Homo sapiens: one gene and its partner. The protein of the gene in region 1 purifies or fractionates together with the protein of each later gene. This does not show direct contact. Each region holds a gene or a part of one and is shown on either strand. Other genes may lie near its edges.

Region 1 (4,885 bases):
ATACAGAGAATTGGTACCAGGGATAGTGGGGTATTGTTAAAAAGATAATGTGAAAAGGTGGAAGTGACTTTGGAACTGAGTAACAGAGGTTTTAACAGTTTGGAGGGCTCAAAAGAAGACAGGAAGATGTGGGAAAGTTTGGAACTTCCTACAGACTTGTTGAATAGTTTTTTTTACCAAAATGCTGATAGTGATATGGCCAATGAAGTCCAGGCTGAGGTGATCTTAGGTGGAGATAAGGAACTTGTTGGGGACTGGAACAAAGGTGACTCTTGATATGCTTTAGCAAAGAGACTGACAGCATTTTGCCCCTGCACTAGCAATCTGTAAAACTTTGAACTTGAGAGAGATGATTTAGGCTATCTGGTAGAAGAAATTTCTAAGCAGCAAGGCATTCAAGAGGTGACCTGGTTGATTCTGAAAGCATTCAGTTTTATGCATTCACAAAGAGATGGTTTTAAGCTGGGGCTTATGTTTAAAAGGGAAGCAGAGCATAAATTTGGAAAATTTGTAGCCTGACCATTTGGTAGAAAAGAGAAACAACACATTTTCTATGGACGAATGCAAGTTGGCTGCAGAAATTTGCATAAATAACGAGGAGCGGAATGTTAATTGCCATGAAATGGAGAAAGTGTCTTTAGGGCATGACAGAGATCTTCGTGGCAGCCACTCGCATCACAGGCCCAGAGTCCTGGAAGGAAAAAATGGTTTCATAGGTTTGGGTCCAGGGCCCTGGTACTGTGTGCAGCCTCAGGACTTGCTGCCCTGCATTCAGCCACTACAGGTCCAACTGTGGCTAAAAGGGACCAAGGAGAAACTTAGCCTTTATGAATTACCCAGTCTTCAGTATTTCTTTATAGCAGTGTGAAAATGGACTAATACACCCTCCCTGAAGACATTTTCCTGATTTCGTCTTTCATGTTTTATGTGCCACAGCTACTTTTGAAATTGTATTTAAAGGTAAACATTATTATATTGAATAATAGAAACAGAAATATAGCCCAAATCTAATTGTGATTTTCATGTTTAACAGTCATTTCTCATATTCAGTGGACTCCAGCTTTTTAATATAGCATTCAAGTGTAGTGTAGATTCATCTCCTATTCTTAGCTTCCAAGTATTTTACACTTTTCCTTTCAAGTTCTTAGTAAGCATCTAGACTTCATGTGCTTAATCTTTGTGCTCACATTCTGTTCTCTAACTGGAAGGATTTTCTCTCACTGTTTTTCCCTAGTGGGCCCTTCTTATATTTTGCCTCTTCTCTAAAGCCTTCCTTGTGCTAAAATATAACTTTTTAATATATCAACTCTTACAGAACACAATGTATTATAATTGTATATTACCTTGTTTTTGAAGCAGGGGATGCACATTTCCTTTTATGTTGTTTGTAGTTCTAAACATTTAAAAAATTAATCAGTGCAATGAGATGGAAAACAGTTGGAGTTTTACAAAAATTGTGGTTTTTTTGTTCATTGTCAATAGAGTTATTAGGAAACATTGGCTTTTTATAGAGTTTTTAAAGTAGAGCTTTTGCCTTGCATATGAAGAAAGAAACATGAAAATAAAAAACGGACCTCAAAATAATCTGTGATTACACCCATATTTGAGAAGGCCAATTTACTAACTCATGGTCTGCAACAAGTAAATGATGATAGCAGTTTAAGTGAAATAGATGGTAAAGAAGGTAAAATTTATAAGTCCTTTATAAGAAATATCTGGGAACACCCCCTCAAAAAGTGGGCAAAGGATATGTGCAGACACATCTCAAAAGAGGACATTTACGTGGCCAAGAAACATGAAGAAAAGCTCATCATCACTGATCATTAGAAAAATGCACATCAAAGCCACAATGAGGTACCATCTCATGCCAGTTAGAATGGTGATCATTAAAAAGTCAGGAAACAACAGATGCTGGTGAGCCTGTGGAGAAACAGGAACACTTTTACACTGTTGGTGGGAGTGTAAATTGGTTCAACCATTGTGGAAGACAGTGTGGTGATTCCTCAAGGATCTAGAACCAGAAATACCATTTGACCCAGCAATCCCATTAGTGGGTATATACCCAAAGGATTATAAATCATGCTACTATAAAGACACATGCACACGTAAGTTTATTGCGGTATTATTTACAATAGCAAAGACTTGTAACCAACCCAAATATCCATCAATGATAGACTGGATAAAAAAAGTGACAAATATAATCCATGGAATACTGTTCAGCCATAAAAAAGAATGAGTTCATGTCCTTTGCAGGGACATGGATGAAGTGAGAAACTATCATTCTCAGCAAACTAACATGGGAACAGAAAACCAAACACTGCATATTCTCACTCACAAGTGGGAGTTGGACAATAAGAGCACATGGACATAGGGAGGGGAACATCACACACTGGGGCCTGCCTGGGGGTGAGGGAGCAAGGGGAGGGAGAGCATTAGGACAAATACCTAGTGCATGCAGGACTTAAAACCTAGATGACAGGTTGATAGGTGAAGCAAATGACCATGGCACATGTATACCTTTGTAACAAACCTGCACGTTCTGCACATGTATCCCAGAACTTAAGGTTAAAAAAATTTTAAAGTCAAAAAAAAAAAAAAAAAGAAAGAACAAAAAAGAAAGAAAAGAAAATAAATCTCTAGGAAAGAACGTTAACACCAATTACTTTTCCTGGAACTAGAATAATATAGTCTCCTCAAACTGGAAATACTCAACTGTATCAGTGCTGTTGAAAGATTGATTATAATAAGGATTAGTGACTTTGACTAGGAGAAGTTTCAACAAATGATAGCCATGGAAATCTGTAGTGGATGAATGTAGACAACTCTTGAGAGAAAATTTGCTGGGAAAGGCAATATAGAAATGGGCAATAATTAAAAAAGAGTGTGGGATTTGAGGGAGTTTTCTCTCTTTGTGTTTCAAAACAGAAATTTTTAGAGTTTATTTTTTACTGTTGGGAATGATCCATAAGAGAAGAACATGGTTATGAAAGGTAATTTTGTTTGCTTGGTTGCATGTCTAAGCATTAGACAGCTTGATTCATTATCTTTTATGGATTTTTAGCAAACTAATTGCCCTTAGAACTTCTATTCATGTATAGTTTTATGATTAGAGTTGTTTTTTCAGAATTGGTTCAGAAGTGTAACATGTTAGTGTAACTGTACATGCCGATGATGACCTAAAACTTAAACTGTCATACACAGATTTTTAAAAAGAATTATAATAAACATTCACACACTTAGGCCATGCTGAATAGAATTTAAATGTTCCTTCATAATTGCACATCTTGCACTACCTTTGACAGTAGCATCATGAATAGCCATGATTTGCTTAGGTACTTACTCTAAAATATCAGGTGTATCAACTTTATGATTGTTTAGATTCTGGGGAGTAGGGAAGGATTTTGTTCATGAAGTTGAGAAAAGCAAACTATTGACAATCTATTGCAGATTATTACTTCAGGATTATAAACTCCTAAAGCATCAAAGCCATATTTTCCTGGGCCAGCAATGTTATCAGCATATATTGTATGCTCAATGAGTATTTGTTGAATGCATGAATAAACAGTTGAAGAAATAAATGAATGACATTGATAAATTTCTTTTAAAAACTAATTTTTAGTTTTTTGAAAGTAGTAGGTTTCCAAACTTGCCTCTGTATAAAGTCTTTATTTTTTAAAAAAGTGCAGGATTCATGTTCTCACTCATAGGTGGGAATTGAACAATGAGAACACATGGACACAGGAAGGGGAATATCACATACCAGGGACTGTTGTGGGGTGGGGGGAGGGGGGAGGGATAGCATTAGGAGATATACCTAATGCTAAATGATGAGTTAATGGGTGCAGCACACCAACATGGCACATGTATACATATGTAACAAACCTGCACGTTATGCACATGTACCCTAAACTTAAAGTATGTATATATAAAAAAAAGACACTGCAATTTTCAAAAGGTGAAAAAAAAGTGCAGGATTCAGAAATTATTAGTTATAGCCAAAAACAGAATGATAATCAGAAATTTTTAGTTATAGCCAAAAACAGAATGATAATATGGATTTGTCTGCTATCATATCTCTTAAAAACACTTGAATATAAATATTACCTTCACAGCATATTGCAAAACACATGTTTTGGAGGGAGAATTCTTGGATTTCAATGCTGTGTCAATTACTGACCAGCTCTATGGGCTGGGAAAATTTATATGGCCTTTCTGGGCCTAGTTTCTTTCTTTATAGAAGCCCTAATATTACCTACCTCAAAGAATTGTTATGATGATTAAAATGAGCTTGACACATGCACAGTGCTTAGAATGATGCATAGTGTCTGCATAATAAGTCCTGAAAAAGCTAATATTATCATTTAAAAAAGGGTTCCCCTCACATAAGAACATAAATAATGTTTTCCAAATAGGTTTCAGTGCCAGTAAAAGCTTGTTTTTATTGAAAAGGACAGCAATGAGAAGTCCTGGTATATGTCTTTCTATCACATAATATCAGTAACATGTTTTTCCTTTTGCCTTGACTGTCAGAAAGCTTGATCTAAATTCAATTCTTTGTAATGATATTATTATTATCATATTTTCTTTCTCCCTTAATGTTACTCTTTCTGTTTATAGTTTAATTCCCCATGTGGAAAATAGTTATATTTACATTACCTGTTAAAAAATGACCTGAACACTTAATGGATAGAATAAATAACTTATAAATGCCGAGATTTTATATAATAAAATAATAGATTTGGACATTATTTGTATTTTATGTATTTGTTTGTCTAAGAAGAATTGTTTCTTTTTTCAGGCCTGAAAAGAAATCTAATGAAAAGAACAAGGTATTGTAATAAGTAAATTATCTGAAACATTATTGTTAAAAAAACACATTATAAAA
Region 2 (4,885 bases), on another chromosome or scaffold:
CAAAAAATTAGCCGGGTGTGGTGGCATGTGCCTGTGCTCCAGCCTGGGTGATAGAGACTCTGTCTCAAAAAATCACTGAGGTTTTTTTGCAAAATTTTTTTTTTTGAGTCAGTCTCATTCTGTCGCCCAGGCTGGAGTGCAGTGACACAATCTCAACTCACTGCAACCTCCGCCTCCTGGGTTCAAGTGATTCTCCTGCCTCAGCCTCCCGAGTAGCTGGGATTACAGGCATGTGACACCACGCCCAGCTAATTTTTGTATTTTTTAGTAGAGATGGGGTTTCATCATGTTGGCCAGGCTGATCTCGAACTCCTGACCTCAGGTAATCTGCCCGCCTTGGCCTTCCAAAGTGCTGGGATTACAGGCGGGAGCCACTGCGCCCAGCCTTGCAATTTTTTTTTTTAAGCTCATCGGCTGTTGTTAGTGTTAGCGTATTTTATGTGTGGCCCAAGACAATTCTTCCAGTGTGGCCCAGGGAAGGCAAAAGATTGGACACCCCTGCTTTAAAGGCACTATGTGGGTCAAACAGCCAGATTAGTCTGTGACCCATGAAAGGAAGAAGTGTCCTGTCTCCTTTATACAGTTCCCAACAGCCACTCCACCTTGAAAGCTTTGTTCCCTCGTACCTTCCCACTGTCAGGGACAATGGAGGACAAGGAGGAAAGTCAGAGCCTGACGCCTGGCCACCCTGCCCTGAAGCCACATTGCAGAAACAAGGGGACTGGGAAGCCAGGCCCCGCCAGAGCAGGGGCAGGAGGAGTGGACCCTTCTCGTCTCTCCCACTTGGGAGTCACTGGGCTTTTTGCATTTGTGTCTTTGTATCTTTCATCAGTTCTAGACAACTGTCTGCCATTCTAACTTCTAATAATGCCTCTCTCCCATTTTCTTTCTTCTTTTTTTTTGAGCCGGAGTCTCGCTCTGTTGCTAGGCTGGAGTGCAGTGGCACGATCTTGGCTCACTGCAACCTCCACCTCCTGGGTTCAAGCGATTCTCCTGCCTCAGCCTCCCAAGTAGCTGGGGTTACAGGCACGCGCCACCATGCCCAGCTAAGTTTTGTATTTTTAGTAGAGATGGGGTTTCACCATGTTAGCCAGGCTGGTCTTGAACTCCTGACCTTGTGATCTGCCTGCCTTGGCCTCCCTCCCATTTTCTTTCTGGAACTCCAACGAACACGTTAGGCTTTCCATCTCTTGTTTTCTGTCTTTATTTTTTGTTTCTGTAATTCATTCTAGCTATCTTTTGACCTTTTTTCCAATACATGAATTTGCTCTTCAGCTATATCTGCTCTGCTGTTATAAACTTGTCTGCTCAGTTTTGTATGTATGGATTTCTACATATATATAGATATATAACTCATCCTTGTTCCCAGCTAAATTTTTTTTTTTTTTTTTTTGAGATGGAGTCTTGCTCTGTCGCCCAGGCTGGAATGCAGTGGCGCAATCTCAACTCACTGCAACCTCTGCCTCCTGGGTTCAAGGGATTCTCCTGCCTCAGCCTCCTGAGTAGCTGGGACTATAGGTGCCCGCCACCACGCCCAGCTAATTTTTTGTATTTTTAGTAGAGATGGGGTTTCACCTTGTTGGCCAGGATGGTCTCGATCTCCTGACCTCATGATCCACCCACCTCGGCCTCCCAAAGTGCTGGGATTACAGGCGTGAGCCACCGCGCCCGGTCATTTTTTTTTTTTTTAGACAGAGTCTCATTTTGTTGCCCAAGCTGGAGTGCACTGGCACAATCACGGCTCACTGCACCCTCAACCTGTCAGGCTCAAGTGAGCCTCCCACCTCAGCCTCCCTAGTAGTTGGGACTACAGGGGCACACCACTATGCCTAATTTTTTTTGAGACGGAGTTTCACTCTTGTTGCCCAGGCTGGAGTGCAGTGGCACAATCTTCGCTCACTGCAACCTCCACCTTCCAGGATCAAGCGATTCTCCTGGACTCAGCCTCCTGAGTAGCTGGGATTACAGGTGCACACCACCACGGCCAGCTAATTTTTGTATTTTTAGTAAAGACGGGGTTTTACCATGTTGGCCAGGCTGGTCAGGAACTCCTGACCTCAGGTGATCTGCTCGCCTCGGCCTCCTACAGTGCTGGGATTACAGGCGTGAGCCACCAGGCCGCCTGCATTTGCTTGTGTCCGGCCAGGGGATATTCCCATTCTGGGACTCATTTTAAAAACATTCGCTGTCAGGCCAGGCGCAGTGGCTCATGCCTGTAATCCCAGCACTGTGGGGGCCGGGCGCGGTGACTCACGCTGTAATCCCAGCACTGTGGGAGGCCGAGGCAGGCGCATCACGAGGTCAGGAGATCGAAACCATCCTGGCTAACATGGCAAAACCCCGTCTCTACTAAAAATACAAAAAATTAGCTGGGTGTGGTGGTGGGCGCCTGTAGTCTCAGCTACTTGGGAGGCTGAGGCAGAAGAATGGTGTGAACCCGGGAGGTGGAGGTTGCCGTGAGCCAAGATTGAGCCGCTGCACTCCAGCCTGGGTGACAGAGTGAGACTCTGTCTCAAAAAACAAAAAAAAAATCGCTGTCATCAGCTCATCTTTCTCAGCCTCAAAAACCCAATCCCAGGCTCATCCCACCTCCCATCTTGTCCATCTTACTTCTTACAGCTTTGTGACTCTGCCCCCTGAAGCTTCTGGAAGATCTCGGGTGGCAGAAAAGGAGAGAGCTTTCCTCCTTCATCGGAGTATACACGGCGGTGTCGGCCGGCAGGCTGGGGAATGGGAGCAGCTGCAGGCATGGTTGGCTTCAGGCGTGTTTTCCCTGCAAGCCATGGGTAACCAGGGGTCAAGCGGTGGGCCACATCCCACAGAGGAGATGCGGGCTTGGGGGATGCCCCAGGAGAGCCGCCTACTGCAGGAGACCCACCAAGCTTGGCGGCCGTCGACTGGGCCCTCTCCAGACACTGCTGTGCTAGCTTCAGCATCTTGGAGGTGTCGGGGGGCACAGTTTCCCCAGCTTCTGGGGGAGGGACAAGAAGGCTGGTCACAGTCGGCTCTACCACTGTTACTTACTGCTGAGATAAAATGAGGCAACGGAAAAGGCAGGCAAGCCCACTGCCCCCCTCAGCACCCCCACTGACCCCGGGCAAGCCCACTGCCCCCCCATCCCCTCACTGACCCTGGGCAAGCCCACTGCCCCCCCATCCCCTCACCCCGGGTAAGCCCACTGCCCCTCCCGTCCCCCAACTGACTGACCCTAGGCAAGCCCACTGCCCCCCCATCCCCTCACCCCGGGTAAGCCCACTGCCCCTTCCACCCCCCACTGACCCCGGGCAAGCCGACTATTCCTCATGGACCCCAGGCAAGGCCCCTGCCCCCACCATGGACCCCAGGCAAGTCCCCCCACCCACGCATTTCTAATCATCTGCCCTGGTTTTGCCTCCTGAGTCTGCTAAGGCTGTGGGCCCCTCATCGAGGCCCGTCACAGCCTCGACCCTAAACAGGCCTTTAGTGCTCACTCAGCTTCACTTGCAACTGCAGGCCTCTGGGAAGTGGCCGTTTTACAGAGACAAGGACGTGCTGAGGGGATCGCCTCACCCATCTCCCACCGGCTGTGTCCCCAAAGTCCTGCCTTCCCGTAGCTTGGCATGGAGCACCTCTGCGCGACCATGGACCTGCTCACACAGCCCTTCTGCGCGCCGTGGGAGCTGCCTCTCTGTGACTCGCCCCTGGACCCACCGCCCCAGCGCCTGACCCACCTCCCTGCTGCCCTTCACAGAAAACTTCTCATAGACTCCCATTTTCTCATCCCGCCCCGATTTAGCCCCCGACTCCCCCCGGAAACTGCCCTTACCCGTCCCCACCTTGCCAGACACGGTGGGCCACTGGAGTTCCTCTGTCTTCTGGGACTTTGCTCTCCCCAGGGGATCCTCTGCCACTCCTCCACCCAACTCCTCAATCTTGGAGCGCCAGAGCTCAGCCGAGCTCACCGGCTCCCTAGGGAGCTGGGGCAACTGTTAGCTCCCCCTGACCTGTGTGATCCTACGTCCAGTGGCTGCCCCGACCTCTGTGATCCCACGTCCAGGGGCTCCCCCGACCTCTGTGATCCCACGTCCAGTGGCTCCCCCGACCTCTGTGCTCCCACGTCCAGTGGCTCCCCCGACCTCTGTGCTCCCACGTCCAGTGGCTCCCCCGACCTCTGTGCTCCCACGTCCAGTGGGTCCCCCTGACCTCTGTGATCCCACGTCCAGTGGCTCCCCCTGACCTCTGTGCTCTATGTCCAGTGGCTCCCCCTGACCTCTGTGATCCTTTGTGCAGCGGCTGCTGGCCTCTCAAACTTAATGTGTTCATTGCGGAACTTGCTATTCCTCTCCTTGCCAGTTTGCTCCTGCCCCATCTGCCTCCTGCAAGTCTGCTCTGTTCCACCTTCAGGACGCACCCCGAGGCCGTTTACTGCTCCCATCCTGGGTGGTCTGGCCACTGCCATCCTCAGTCCTCACCTGAGGCTCCACTCCCAGGCTGTCCTCTCCCTCAAAGCTCAAAGTCTCTTCAAGTTTCCCTGCACACCAGAACGGCCCCAGTTCCACCCAAGGCATGCACACAGCCCCACCCCGCCCACTCCTATTTCAGGGCCTTTGCACACCCCACAGCTGGAATGCTGCCCCACGTCTGTGCCGCTCACTGGAGCCAGTGTCTTGCCACACCCCAGTCTCCATCTTCTTATCCACAACGCTGGTCCCTTCCTGCCACTATATCACACTGAGTGTGGGCTGGTCCACCTACTACAAATGGTCAGGCTAGAAGGATACAAGAGACCCCCGCCGAAGCCTGGCACCCATCAAGGGCTAGGATGCCCACAATTTGTCCAGCATGGAGGAAGCAGCAGGGCTCAGCCATGCCTTTTTCTTTTTCTTTTCTTTTTTTTTTTTTTGAG

What was found. Proteins that work in one complex are often made in the same cells at the same time.
Region 2: the proteins of POTEA (region 1) and VPS9D1 purify together in Homo sapiens (affinity purification with mass spectrometry; one large-scale study listed by BioGRID and IntAct). This does not show direct contact.

Annotation. Positions count from the first base shown.
Region 1 is NC_000008.11:43,337,081-43,341,965, forward strand, and holds part of POTEA (POTE ankyrin domain family member A), read left to right. Parts: intron 1-4,798; coding exon 4,799-4,829; intron 4,830-4,885.
Region 2 is NC_000016.10:89,713,852-89,718,736, forward strand, and holds part of VPS9D1 (VPS9 domain-containing protein 1), read right to left. Parts: intron 4,672-4,885; exon of another isoform or gene 4,668-4,671; coding exon of another isoform or gene 4,595-4,667; intron 4,315-4,594; exon of another isoform or gene 3,493-4,314; intron 3,054-3,492; exon of another isoform or gene 2,972-3,053; coding exon 2,879-2,971; exon of another isoform or gene 2,774-2,878; coding exon 2,611-2,773; intron 1-2,610.